Linked DNA regions of Homo sapiens. The protein of the gene in region 2 purifies or fractionates together with the protein of the main gene of each other region. This does not show direct contact. Each region holds a gene or a part of one and is shown on either strand. Other genes may lie near its edges.

Region 1 (7,026 bases), on a different chromosome or scaffold from region 2:
TTTAAAATACATATATTTATCCAGATTAAGCTTATACAGGTAATTGGGCATATAACCCCTCAGCCTAAGGAAATATACTGAACAAGTTTGATGTCTTCTTTGCTTTCTCTTCACTTGGACACAAAAGTCTGAAATCATCCTAAAGACTTCAATGATTACAAAACTCATGTTTAAAAATTCTCAAGAGGACAAAAATTATCTAACTTAAATGTCAGAGTGCCACCTAAAGTAACTCAAGAGAACCACATTTACTATTTCAAACAAAGAATAAATTAAGTACCTTAGTATGCTCTATTATAAACAAAAAATAAAGTAATAATATGGTTTTTATAAAACCAGGGAAGAAAATGTCACATTAAAAAAAGTTTATCCTAAGAAATGCTAAATATTTGAGGTGATATGTTAATTAGGCTGATTTGATCATTCTACAATGTATACATGTATTAAAATATCAAATTGTACCCTATAAATATATACAATTATTATCTGTCAATTAAAAATAAAGTAACGCTTTTTAAAAGTTTATACTAGATGATAATTTTATGGTTAGAGTTTTGAGGCCTTAAGATTTCCTTTGGAAAGCGATGAAAAATATTTTTTTCTTACACTCTACTGCCCTCTTGTGGGCAAAATTTACTGAATGCCAATTAACTACACAATTTTTTTCCCATGGATTACTTAGAAATACCTATGAAAGTTATGCAACTCCCTTGGGATATCTTAACAAAAGGTACACAAAAATAAAATACAAAGAAGTCACTTCATAAATGTACTAGATCAATAACAGGAAAATACATCCTACCTTCATAAAATGACATACAGGCATTAAAAATCATGTTATAGGTGTATATTTAAGATGTTTGAAACATGCTAAGCAAAAAAAGCAAATTACAAAACTATGAAAACAGAACCAAATTTTACAGTGTGTGAATTGTTTTCGAATGCCTATCCATATTTTATAAATAAAATATTTTATAATTAACAAAAAACAATAAGGGGGAATGGTAATTTGTGGACCAGGAAATAAAGGCCACGCACTCAAAGACTGTTAAGTGACCCTGGACATGATGATGTGCAACCAATGAAAACCCTCTACTCTCTAGTAGGGTAGACATCAACATAGTTAAATCAACCAAAAATAAGAATTAATGCCCAGTTAATGTCACATTATTCTGGTGAGTTACTATTCTCAGAGAATAAGCTGCAATTGTTTTAATATGACAAAAATTGTGCTAGAGTACAAGAGTAGGACTGAACCATGAATCTGCTGGGAAGACTTGACCTGCACATTCATCACTTAATCACTAAAAGAAATGATGATGCTATCTCATTTAACACAAAACCAAGTGAGGGGCATTCTACAAAATAACTGACCAGTTCTCAAAGTCATAAAAGACAAAGTCTGAGGAACTGTCAGTGACTGAAGAAAACTCAAAAGACAGAACAACTAAATGCAATATGGGATCCTAAATTAGATCTTGGAACAGAAAAGGACACAATGGAAAAACTGGTGAAATCTCAATAAAATCTGTAGTTTAGTTAGCAGAAATGAAACCATGTTCATTTCTTATCATTGTACTTTTGAAAATGTCAAATAAGACATTAACATCAGGGTAAGCTGGTAAAGGGCATACAGAAATTCTCTGAGCTATTTCTGCAAATCTGTGAACCTAAAATTATCTCAAAATTAAAAGTTAAAAAATTAATTTGTTTCTTATTTTAGTGCAATTTCTAGGAAATTAAAAATTACACATGTGGCTCACACTCTATTTCTATTGGACAAAGTTGATCCAGATGAAGGTTTTAAACGTTTTCATCAGCAAACTGACCAACAGGAAATACCCCATGCTTCTGTGATAAACTCTCTCAAGAGAGATGCCCCTCTTTCCTTTCCCCATTTGGAAATCACTGTAGTTGAGTTACATATAGAAATAGGCCCACTTCATTTCAAATCTTCTAAAAACTGTAAATCTTACCAATAAGATTAAGTGACGAATTTTCTGCTTTTTCAAATGCAACTTGACTGTTTCCAACAACCAGTCCTACTTCAATCTGTAGAGAAAGACAATAATTAGTAGTCTAATAGCAAACTTCTGGACTTCTCAAAGCAAGGCCAAAAGTGAGGGGGAAATGAGGTCTCTCTGGGCAAAGCAAACCTTCCAGACTATCATCTGAGCTACTTTTACTTTTCTCATAACTTTCTTCTACAATTCTTACATGCCTTATTTCCATGCCTATATCTTTCCAATAATGCGTTTCTTATTATTTATTTACAATAAATATCTGCATTCAAGCAAATTATATGTACATATACGTCTACATTTTACATTAATATTAGGTCTGCAAATAAATACATTTTAAGCTATATTTTAATAACAATGATGGCTATGAAAGCAATTTTTTCTCCCTACTATCTTAAAAGGGTACACAATATGAAAAAAATCACTAAGCAACAGATAGGAAAATTATAATCAATCTGCACAAATTACATTATAAAGATGATCTAGTAAAGATGATCAGAAATAAAAGCTACCTTCTGCCTTTTCCCTGTCGCAGGCTCTCCCTTCAGGATGCTAGGATCCATGGCTTCAATGTCCTTCACCAGTAAGCCAAAAAGCTTTTCATTGAAGCTAAAGACAAGCTATGTAGAAAAGAGGTAAGGGGAGAAAAATCACTTCATAATATAATAGTTTGATCCTCAGATCATCACCAATGTTTTTCAAATGCAGAAAACCAGTTTATCTTATATACTCCTCTCCAATCTGCTCCTCAAACAAACTACTCACAGCCAATGAAGAAAAGGGAATTAGCACTTACGATCAGTGTTTACAAAATGACTGCAAAACTCATGTTTAAAATTTCTTCCACATGGATAAAAAATATCTAATTTAAATGTCAGAGTGCCACCTAAAGTAATTCAAGAGTACCACATTTACTATTTCTAACAAAGAATAAAGTTTCTTAGTATTTTATTCAAACACTACAGCCAGTTATATAATATTCACAAACACTCTTGGAAGCAGAAACTACGACTCCATTTTACTAGTGAGGAAGCTGAGATGCAGAAACAGGCTATGCAACAAGGCTCAAAGTCACAGTAAATGAGAGCGCCAGAAGTCAACCCTGGGTCTGTGACTCTACAATTCCTGCTTTTCTATCACTAGTACAAAATGCTTGCCCTACAAGTGCAGAGACAGCTTCTGAATGCTCAATTACTCATTCACCAAATCTTTGCTGAGTCCCTTCTAAAAGTTTGGTCTTCTTCTATGTGCTGGGGTATAATGGTAAATATTACAGGTTGGGCTGTCTGTCCATTCTGCTACTACGAGATACCACAAATGAGAAGAAACAGTTAAGGACAGTGATCTGGAGTAAGATATTTACTTCTTCTCTGAATTACGAAAGATTCTCTTTCATGGATTTACTGACTTCTACATGCTACTGAGTTTTAAATTATTATAAATACCAAAGCATTTTCTATTAAACATTCTCCTAAACATTTTCTATTAGGATACTAAAACTAAAAGCAAAGGTAAAAACCATCAAGTTTAGCTAGGCAATCTGAGCACAATTTTGGTCATCCAATACACAACAGCACCGCAATAGCTCTCTGGTGAATTGTCCTGATCTACTTTCATCAGAGACCTAACTGTACATGGTATTCCTGTCTTATTTTCTGTTTTCTTCAACTAGAAAGTAAGTTCTATGACAGCAGGGATCATATCTATTTTGTTCACTGCCGATCTGCAGTGTCTAAAACAGTGACTGGTACTAGGCACTAGGTACTATCAAATATGTGTTTAATTAATTCTTATCTCAACTATGTCCCTTAGCTGTGTAGCCATGGGCATACCATTTACCTTCTTTAGATCTTAAATTCCTCATTTGGCCAGGCGTGATGGCTCACACCTGTAATCCCAGCACTTTGGGAGGCCGAGGTGGGAGGATCACTTGAGGTCAGGACCAGCCTGGCCAACATGGCAAAACCCCATCTCTACTAAAAATACAAAAAAAAAATGGTTGGGCATGGTGGCTCATGCCTGTAATCTCAGCACTTTGGGAGGTCAAGGCGGATGGATCACCTGAGCTCATGAGTTCGAGACTAGCCTGATTAACATGGTGAAACCCCATCTCTACTAAAAGTACAAAATTAGTCGGGTGTGGTGGCGCATGCCTGTTATCCCAGTTACTCGGGAGGCAGAGGCAGGAAAATCACTTGAACCCAGAAAGCGGAGGTTGCAGTGAGCTGAGATGGTGCCGCTGCACTCCAGCCTGGATGACAGGGTAACACACCATCTCAAAAAATAAATGAATAAATAAATAAAATTTTAAAAAATAAAAAAATAAAATTCCTCATTTGTATATGTGGAGTTACATAAGGTAATCTCTTGAGGTTCATTCCAATTCTAGTACTCTTTTTAAAATAATGTACTATATCCTTTTCCTATCTAGCAGGAATTCAGTTTTTTAAGATTCTCAAATAAGCCCATAACCAAAATAAGAACTTTTTTTTTTTTTTTGAGACAATCTCGATCTGTCACCCAGGCTGGAGTGCCGTGGCACAATCATGGCTCACTGCAGCCTCAACCTCCCAGGCTCAAGCCGTCCTCCCACCTCAGCCTCTTGAGTAGTTGAGACCACTACACGCAGCTACTTTTAAAAAAATTTTTGTAGAGACAGGGTCTCACTTTGTTGCCCAAGCTGATCTTGAGCTCCTGGGCTCAAACGATCCTCCCAACTCAGTCTCCCAAAGTGTTGGGATTACAGGCATGAGCCACCATGTCTGGCCAAGAGCTACATTTTCTACAGAACTATATTAGTGAAAGAGACAGACATTCCAGAGGCAAAACAAATGTCCTATGATATAAAAAGGAATTTCAGATATATATGTCCACAGGGTTCCCAAATTTGCTGAGGGAAAAGCTGCTATAATTATACATGACATTTTAATCTAAAAGCTACTTTAGAATTTTTCTGAACAGACTCCTTGAAGTTCAGTAAATACATCTCCCTCACTTTTATCACTCACCTTGGATATACGAGTTGATACGCAAAGCCCCTCTCACTTTTTAAAAGGTGGAATTAATTTTGGAAAACTGCAGAAATTAGAATACCTATAAAGTTAAAGGAATGAAAGAAAATTAAAAACTACCTGTTGTCCCACTGAGAAGGCCTGGTTGTTGAATTGCTGAATAAATTCTGCTGCCATCTTGTCGGTGTCATAAGGGTTGGAGTCAATGCTTTTTTTCTGCAGGAAATCAATCTCGATGGTCATTGTGCCAATACACTGTTTGGCTTTGTCAAATGTATATAAGGAGACTAGGGGAAAAAAAGAAGCATTTTTTTAAAAATCACAGGAGTACAAAATACCTGTAGTGTTTCTAGTAACTAAAAGTTTCACATAAATGAATCATAAACTACTTCACCAAAAATGGGGTTTAAATGGCCTTCACTGGAGGGACACACAGGTACAGGTTTAAAAAATAATAGTCACTAGAGATTTTCTTCCCCATCTGAATTAATTAGAAATACTGAATGGCAGGCCGGGCGCGGTGGCTCACTCCTGTAATCCCAGCACGCTGGGAGGCCGAGGCGGGCGGATCACGAGGTCAGGAGATTGAGACCATCCTGGCTAACACAGTGAAACCCCGTCTCTACTAAAAATACAAAAAATTAGCCGGGCGTGGTGGCGGGCGCCTGTAGTCCCAGCTTCTTGGGAGGCTGAGGCAGGAGAATGGCGTGAACCTGGCAGGCGGAGCTTGCAGTGAGCCAAGATCACGCCACTGCACTCCAGCCTAGGGCAACAGAGCCAGACTCCGTCTCAAAAAAAAAGAAAGAAAGAAATATTGAACGGCAGTCTCTCTGTTGTTATCCCTCATCCCACTCTTATCAGGATCACAATCCTCCCCACATGGCCTCTGCATCTTTCTCCTCATTTAATGCAATACAGTATGGGATGCCCCAACACAGTTGGCATAACATGCTATTTCCAAATAAGATTTTTGTTTGACACAAAAAAACAGCTAAGGTGGGATGTGGATGAATTATTTTGGCCTAAGAAAGTAGGACGCAAGGCAAAAAAAAGAAGCTTGAAAAACAATGTTTACTAGCGGAATTTGCTCCAGAGCAAGTTAGAGTTTGACATTTCTTTTTTACTACTACAAAAATGTTTCCTGAGCACCTGCTACATCTAGGGAACTACAGTAAGTTCTACATGTACACATGTAGATAAGGGCAAGGACGAGGTTTTTAACTCCTCTTCCTATTAACAGCATCTAACAGTTTCTTTCAGGTGCTTAATATATTCATGAACTGTTTAAATGAAACAACAATAACAGAAAACCCATGGTCTCCATGCTAATAACAAAGGAGGCAATAAAGCATACATACAAAGCTTTGGATAAGAAAATTCCTGTTCAAGCCACATAAAAAGTTTTAAAATGAATTTTAGGTTACAATGTAATTAATATTAAAGTGTTACACATGATTTTACATCATGTAATAACTGTTCGACCAAAAACCTTTAATTGTACAACTACAACACAGTTTACATATCATATTTTTAGAAAAATATATGTTAAAACAAATTTTGCTAGTGACAGATAATTACAAAGAAGCATTTCCCTAGAAAAAAAAACTTGATTCTTAAATCAGCTCAAAAAGTATACTTATAAATGCCAGTTTATAAACAAACTTTTAAAGCAAAAAATTTTACAGTGCTGTATACTGTAGTGGTACTATTAGGAAAGAGTAGAGTAGGCTACCCAGAAAAGTTCAAGAGGATTTTTGCATTTGAGTTTCCCCAGGAGGGCAACTTGATTACGCCTAGTAAGAAAGAGTCTATTGCTACTCTTCAATAAGGCTTCACACACGAGCACACACACACACACACACACACACACACACACACACACACATTTATTTTCCCTTTAGGTTCCCTGAAGATACTTGTCCTAAAATTTACCAATGGCCCCTTAAGGATACAGTAGCAGCTCTCGTAAGCAACCTCCACTGAGCTGAGTCATC
Region 2 (7,837 bases):
GTAGCTTTTTGGTAAATCTAAATTTGTTTCAGGAAAAAAAAAATCTGTTTTTTAATGCAACATTTCTAGGTGTGAGATCTTGCTGTTTCAACCCCATTGTGAGAAATGACCCATTTTGGCTAGCTATTATAATATTCACATTAAGAGAGTTTACCAAATGGTATCAGATTCAGAATATGTTTGTTGCTGGACTGCAGCAAACACAATAAGAAAACAAGCCAATGAATGAAAAACACACTTTTAAAACTCTGACGGCATGCTCTTCACAAAGAAAAAACAGAAAAAAAGACATGAACATTCTAGTCATAAAACAATGGTCCACAACACAAATAAAATAACCTGAAACATAAAATGTCAAGAACTGAACAAAACCAACTGAATCAACATATGATGAGATGATGACTTGGTGGGTTTCTGTGGCAGTCAATTTTTATGAGTCTGGTAAGGAAGGGCTGTCATTAGGTAAAGGTTGAATTGGTTCTGGTACATTGACTGAATTCATTCTGGTACATACCCAGATTTTAAGTCAGTTATCCTCAAACAGTTTGTAGCATCCAGTCCCACTTTTCCATTCCGGACCACGCTAGATATGAAAGGGGAGAGCATTGGAGATATTCGGTTCAAGGCCACTTCTGGGGACATTTTAACTTGACTTGTAAATCACCACTGAAAGCAGAAGGAAAGAATAATGATCAGGGCTTACAAATGGACTAGATACAACACTCTGCCTGAAAACTGGACAGCATACAGCAGTTCCTCTTGCATGAATAAATAATTCATTTCCCATCTCTAGCGCAGCCTCTTCCAATGATCCTCCAGAAGAAACCACCTCACTGCTGCTCAGCTACTCAGGACTGGGACTACATCACTGCTTTTCAGGAACAGAAGGAACTCCTGAAATACAATTCCCTTTTCCTTCCCAAAGCTGATTTCTACACTGCCACACTCTACTCAAAGTGGTCCCACTCTATCTCACTCGTTCTACCTTAGCTGAGTCCAAGGAGCCCTCGCTAACAATCCTCTATCCCAACACAAAAACACACACATCACTGAGTTAGCAATCTCTCCCTGTGTGTCCCCACAAGGAGTAAAAACTTGATGGATAATACCGTATAAAACTCTACAACAGGCTGACCTGCTTGAAGCTATTACTTACTAGAAATTATTTACTGCTGATATATCTTTCTTTTTTTTTCTTTTTTTTTTGCGACAGAGTCTCACTCTGTTGCCAGGCTGGAGTGCAGTGGCGCAATCTCGGCTCACTGCAAACTCCACCTCCCGGGTTCAAGTGATTCTCCTGCCTCAGCCTTCCGAGTAGCTGGGACTACAGGCACATGCCACCACGCCCAGCTAATTTTTGTATTTTTAGTAGAGACGGGGTTTCATCAGGTTGGCCAGGATGGTCTCAATCTCTTGACGTCATGATCCACCCACCATGGCCTCCCAAAGTGCTGGGATTACAGGCGTGAGCCACCGCACCCGGCCTACTGCTGATACACCTTTCTTAATACCTTTCCGTCCACAGTGTAGTATAACTACCTGCTTACGTGATCTCTTCCCTGCAGGGTCTATGTTTTGAATCCCCAGGGTTTAACAGAAATACCTGGCACATGCTAAACACTCAATAAACATTTTTTAATAAATAAATGAGTAAGGGGACAAAAGTTAGAGAAATATTTCAGTATGGAGAGAAGATAATGTGCCCCCTCCCCAGAATTTGGTAGGGGAATAGATATAACAAGATCCAAGGAAGAGATATAACAAAAATCTACTTGACAATTAAATTATGAAAACATACATCTATGCAGCTATCAAGCAACACAGACTAACATGGATCTTAAGGTATTTGACTTTAAGGCACTAAGTCCTTACACTTAAAACCACAAAAGTAGAACCAATACATCATATCTAAATTATCTGGAAACTCATAGGGCTGGGGGAGGGAGTACACGAATTCTTCTTAATAGATTTCTAAATGAAAGCCTCTTCCTTCAGAGGAAAAAGTCGATTCAAATGATCGTTTCCTTCCTCAATTTTAAAGAATAATGCCACATCAAAAGAAAATTAATTTCCAGCAAGTTACCAGTAAATGATGCTCTGGTTCTAGTTTTCATACATTATACCACATGAAAACTTACAAGTCCTTGCTAAAATAAATGTTGAAAATTAAAACCTGTTTCAGTTTATTATTTCAGATAGTAAGTAATAAATTTATTTGCTAATTTGATAGCTCAAAAAATAAGAACACTTTGACCCTATATAGTGATGACAACCAGAAGTATCTTCGAGATTAACACCTTTATATTCATACTTCAGTTCTAAAATCATCCTTTTTGTAAATATAAAACAAGCTCTTCTTCTGACCGCTTAACAGATGACCGCCCCCCGACTAGTCTCTCATTTCAAAGTAAGACTAAACATCTAACACTGTACTACCAATCATAAAAATCATGTACTTTTTTAAACATTTTATCACTTACAAGGAGCGTCCATATATATTACTGCAGTTGATCTTCACAAGCCTGAGGTAGTAAGGAATTTTAATTCCCAGTTTGCAGATAATATGGGTAATTATTATAATTTGATTCTGAACAGTATACTAATCCACATCATAATTTTGAAGCCTATTTTTTTCTATTCGCCAACATTTCCACCTTCATGTCTATGTCACAATTCTTGAAGGGATGCTTATCAAAGTCATATGCTAAGTACAAATATACCTATCTTATAAAAAAGCAAAAGGGTCTCACCTATATTACCGAATTGTTCTTCTGTGTTTTTCCCCACAGTACCCATTATTACTTTATCTCTTGCTTCTACAAAAGAAGGAAACAGAACCAACACATTCTAGACACCTATCTACCCATTATCAGGCATTATATTACTCATCTCTATCTGTAATTTCATTTACATTTCCCCAACTCTGTTCCCTGAGAACAATAATTGTTCCCATTTGACAAGTGGAAGCTAAAGAAACTTGACAAATAGAAAATTAAAGCTCAGCAAAATAAAATAACTTGTTGAATGTTGGAAGCTGGAGGATCAGAATCCAAATCCGGATTCTCCAAGTCCACTATACCCATCTTTCTCTCAAATAAACATTGATAACTTCTATCACCAAAGAGAAAAGCATCAAGGTGATTTTGTAAAGCGTATATCTTATAAAATGTGAACAGACAAAAAGTAAAAATTTAAACAAATGATTGCTTTACCACTAAAAACAAACTGGACTATTGCTGACCTACTGCTGAACCTGGTCTGAGTGATTCACTAGTCAAATGTTAAAGGGAACAGCCTTGCTCTAGAAGCCAAACCATACTAAGTGACAACAATACATTCTAATTCAGCAACGGTCGTGACTTTAGGATGACACCTGAGGGAATGAATTCTATTTCCAGGGCAGCCATAATACTATGTTTTAACAGTGCAAGGTTTCACGCAGTATTAAAATCTATTTCAACCATGAGGAGGTGTGACTTCTCTAAAAAAAAAGGGCGGGGGGTGGGGAGTGGAACACAATGACTCCAAAATCAGAAGTCACTTAGCCAAAAACACTGGTCCTTTGGTGCAGTGAACCGGGTACATGGACAGGGAGTCACCACCGGTAGTAACTCTTACGCATGGCAGCACTATAATACACCCCAGATATACAAATATTTACGGTGGTCAGAGTCCCCTGAATACTACTACTGCAATTTGTATTTCCTGATTTTGACGTATTGCAAAAGGAAAATGCAAAATTACAATTTTTGCAAGGGTCTGCTACCCCAAAATAAAGTTACAAAAGGTCCTTTGATGAGAGGCCTGGGGATTACAAAGACGTCTAAAGCACCATCCAGGTTCTTGCAATTAAAATGAGATGACAAACACGGAAACATGTGCCCTGCTGACGTCATGGAACGGAAAGGGGTGGCATCCTGCTGCGTCACGTCGACGTCATACAGCGCACGAGGGAAGTTACACTGGGGAAGCAATTTCCCCCAAGGGGCAACATTCGAGAAAAACAAGTTAGCTCAGACCCGAAGAATGACCACCCCACTCTAGGGGACGTCTTAAAAAGGGACACTCTCCCCTCTTCCAAACTGTATGATTCCCCTCATCAGGCAACAAGGAACTAATACTCGGGGTTTACAGGAACCAGGGGATGGGCCAGATATGGAGAAAGAGACGCCTCTGGCCTTGGGGGCTCGTTCTTGAGGGAATCAGCGTGATGGGGATGAGAAGGGCATCTTTGGAACGGGGGCCTTCTCCATAGGAAGAGGAGGCGAGTCCCCTGGCCATATTTAAACCACAGTTCTCCACGCCACCTGTGCGACTCGGGATCCAACCTCCCCGCACCAGCCCCAGTCCAGGTACCTGGAACTTAGTCCGATCGGTAACCGGCGACTACGTGGGGTACAGGTACCCGAGCGCGCCCCCGACAGACGCACCGACCTGCGCGCGCGCCGCGGGCAGGATGCGTGCGCACTCCCCGGACGTCCCGCCCCGCCCCCTCTGCGGCCCCGAAGCTGGGCGGCGTGCGCGCCCCCGCGCCGCGCCGAGCCGGGCGCTCGGAAAGGCGTCCCCGCGGTGCCTGACAGTTCCTTCCTCAGCGCCTGCCCCGTGAGTGACGAGGAGCGCGGAGTCTCGCCATATCAGGAGGGCCCTGTTACGTGAGGCTGTGCACCGAGACTATTCCAGGAAGAAGAGGGGACACTTGGTGGGCGGGGTGATTTCGGGCAGTCAGGTGGGCGACCCGCGTAGGCGTCTGAAAGGCCCGCGTCGTTAGGGAGGGCAGGAGTGGCGTCTCTGGTTACGGGGTCGGGCAAAGGGCAGAGGTCACCGTCCAGGTTGGACAGCAGCACCTTTGAGCGATGGCGGCGTCTGGGGAACCCCAGAGGCAGTGGCAAGAGGAGGTGGCGGCGGTGGTAGTGGTGGGCTCCTGCATGACCGACCTGGTCAGGTTAGTCCGGGGCCAGTTACTCAGTCTGCGGCTCGGGGGAGGAGGCGTGCCGTGCGCTATGCGCCCAGTGGAGCTTTTGGGCGCTGGGTCTCCAGGGATAGACAGTGCTAGCTTTGGGTATGAGCTGCAGGTTTTCGAAGCCTTCAGCCTACCTTCCTGGCATGAAAGAACTTGAGTATATAAAGGTAAATCTCAGGGGAGGGGACGTAATAGGCCAGGGTTTAGTGAAAGCTCTAATATTACTCAAAGCGCTCCCCAAAGACCTGCCCTCCAAAGACTTGCGCCCCCAAAGACCTTTCTTGGCCCGGCTGCTGAGCCTTTCCCCAAACGAGCCAGGGAACTTTGCCCACGTCATTTTACCTCCGAGAATGTGCCTACCTCACAGGGTTGTTGTGAGGACTAAATGAAGTAAAGTGTTTTGTCAAGCGTAACATTATCCAAATTGGGTATTATTCGTCTGAGCTTATTGTATAAAATAATGAGTTGAGCAGAAATCAAAAAGACTGTCACCTTTCACCATGTTGATTGTCGGCATTACTGCAGTATTTTATATTTACAGCGTATTTTTCAGCAAGCCAAGTATGAATCAAAATAAAAACATAAACACAGTATTTACAACCTCTGAAAACGATGATCAAATTATGATAGAAAATATGCCAAATGAAAATTGTTGAGTTAGGTCAGTAAGATTGAGTAGACAGATCCTTCTGATTTTTCTTTTTTTTAAATTAAGGTAGCTTTTCTGATTACAAAAGTAATGTATGTTCACTGTAAAATTAGTAATAAATTCAGATATTCCAAGAAAATCCTACCACTCCAATTACTGCAGTTCAGTCTTTTGATGAATATCTTTTCAGTTGTAATGCTACTTTGTGTTATAAAAATGATCAGGTATGCTACAGTAACACCTCATTCGTCCTGAAATGTTGCTTTTCCAAAGGGTAATAGAGAACGTGGAACTAAACAAAAAGGCTTTGGGACAATCAAAATAAGTCACCAAATTGCTGCACCAAACCACCTGTATTCTACTCAGAAAATAGGTCTAGGGTCTTCATGTAACCAATTTAACCTTACCTTAAAATATTTATAAGCTGTGTTACCAAATTTCCACTGAGATTAGAAAGGTGGGAGTTAGAGAAGAGACTGCTAGAGGCAGTTATAGTGACTGACGAAAACTTGAGGATGAGTAGGAGACTGTGTAACGAGAAGAAGCAACAAAAGAATTTTAAATACCAATGACCTTTATTTTTCCACAAATATTAGAACTATTCTGTCAGACACTGTGCCAAGATAAAAATACTTTCCTTTGGTGACAGAGCATAAAATTGAATCTAGTTGGAGACATTTGTTGAAGAGGCCTGTACATCTTTTTCTAGAGCAAGAGTAAGTAAACTTTTCTGTAAAGGGCCAGATAGTAAATATTTTAGGCTTTGCAAGCCGTATGTGGTCAAGGTCACATTTTTTTTTAACAACATTTTTTAAATGTAAAAACCATTCTTACCTCCCAAGCCTTACAAGAACATCCTGCAGGCCATAGTTTGCAGACATCTGTGTAGAAAGAACATTACTGTGTTTACAACACAATATAGCAATTGATTTTACTGGTGATGACTCTTTTCAAGAAAAGGTTATATGGTACTTACTAAATTTTGTATAAAAATAGAGCATGTATTTCACTTTAGAAAAAGTTTCATCAAAAATTCATAAAGTTGAGTTACATAAAGGAATAAACCTTCATCTAAAATGATTCATTCCATGGGAAATCCACCAAGCTAAATGTTTACCATGATTTTATGTGTGAAGTGGCAGAAGAGTAAGAAAACTAAAGTGGACCGGGCGCAGTGGCTCATACCTGTAATCCCAGCACTTTGGGAGGCCAAGGTGGGCAGATCACCTGAGTGAGGAGTTTCAGACCAGCCCAGCGAACATGGTGAAACCCCATCTCTACTAAAAATACAAAAATTAGCTGGGCATGGTAGCTGGCGCCTGTGATTCCAGCTACTCAGGAGGCTGAGGCAGGAGAATTGCTTGAACCTGGGAGGTGGAGGTAGCAGTGAGCTGAGATCGCGCCATTGCACTCCAGCTTGGGTGACAAGAGCAAAACTCCATCTCAAAAAAAAAAAGAAAAGAAAAGAAAATTTTCTCATACATCCTACCTGAATAAAAGTGTCAGGGTTAAAATTCAGAGCTACTTCCTTGTTACCAAACTGAGAGCTTTCTGTGAAGCTTGACCATCAGATACTAAAAATAACTATAGTACTTTGTGGGGTGGGGTAGGGGAGTGGTGTCAAAGGCCCATTTTAGCATCCGTCAGGGTTTTAAAGTCTTATTTCAGAGCTAGAAAAATTTGGAAATTATTTATTCTAGTCCTTCAGTTTTTAGATAAATAAACTGAAGCCCAGAGAAGAATTTCTCCTCTTGGCCATATTCTTTCCTTCATAAAATATCCAAGTTTCTTCTCTTCACATGAATCAGTAAAAATTTTACTGATGATTAGCAAAATCACTAGTAAAAATTTTACTGATGATTAGCAAAATCACTAGTAAAAATTTTACTGATGATTAGCAAAATCATTAGTAAAATCATCAGTAAAAAATCATTAGTAAAAACTGTATTCCCATATAGACTCTCTCTGCTAATTCCCACAGCTTTTCAACAAACTTTTCATGATCTCTCGTTACTTATGACACTGAAGATCTTTACAAAAATCTGCGTATAGGATTTTCATTTAAAACCCTGCATCTGTGATAAACTTGGGTGCAACTTTTCTAGTTACAGTTAGTATCATGATTATATTAGTTATCTACTGCTGCTGTAACAAATTACCAAATTTAATAATTAACGCAAGTTTATTTTTTTACTGTTCTGGAGGTCAGAAGTCTGATACAGGTCTCA

What was found.
Region 1: the proteins of RBKS (region 2) and NSF purify together in Homo sapiens (affinity purification with mass spectrometry; 3 studies listed by BioGRID and IntAct, with this or other methods). This does not show direct contact.

The regions. Positions count from the first base shown.
Region 1 is NC_000017.11:46,635,669-46,642,694, reverse strand, and holds part of NSF (vesicle-fusing ATPase), read right to left. Parts: intron 5,320-7,026; coding exon 5,153-5,319; intron 2,642-5,152; coding exon 2,534-2,641; intron 2,053-2,533; coding exon 1,977-2,052; intron 1-1,976.
Region 2 is NC_000002.12:27,887,362-27,895,198, reverse strand, and holds the start of RBKS (ribokinase), read left to right. Parts: upstream 1-4,811; 5' UTR 4,812-4,853; coding exon 4,854-4,942; exon of another isoform or gene 4,943-5,743; intron 5,744-6,443; exon of another isoform or gene 6,444-6,490; intron 6,491-7,837. Other genes in the region: BABAM2 (BRISC and BRCA1-A complex member 2), read right to left, coding at 515-642. UniProt on the Homo sapiens protein: Catalyzes the phosphorylation of ribose at O-5 in a reaction requiring ATP and magnesium. The resulting D-ribose-5-phosphate can then be used either for sythesis of nucleotides, histidine, and tryptophan, or as a component of the pentose phosphate pathway.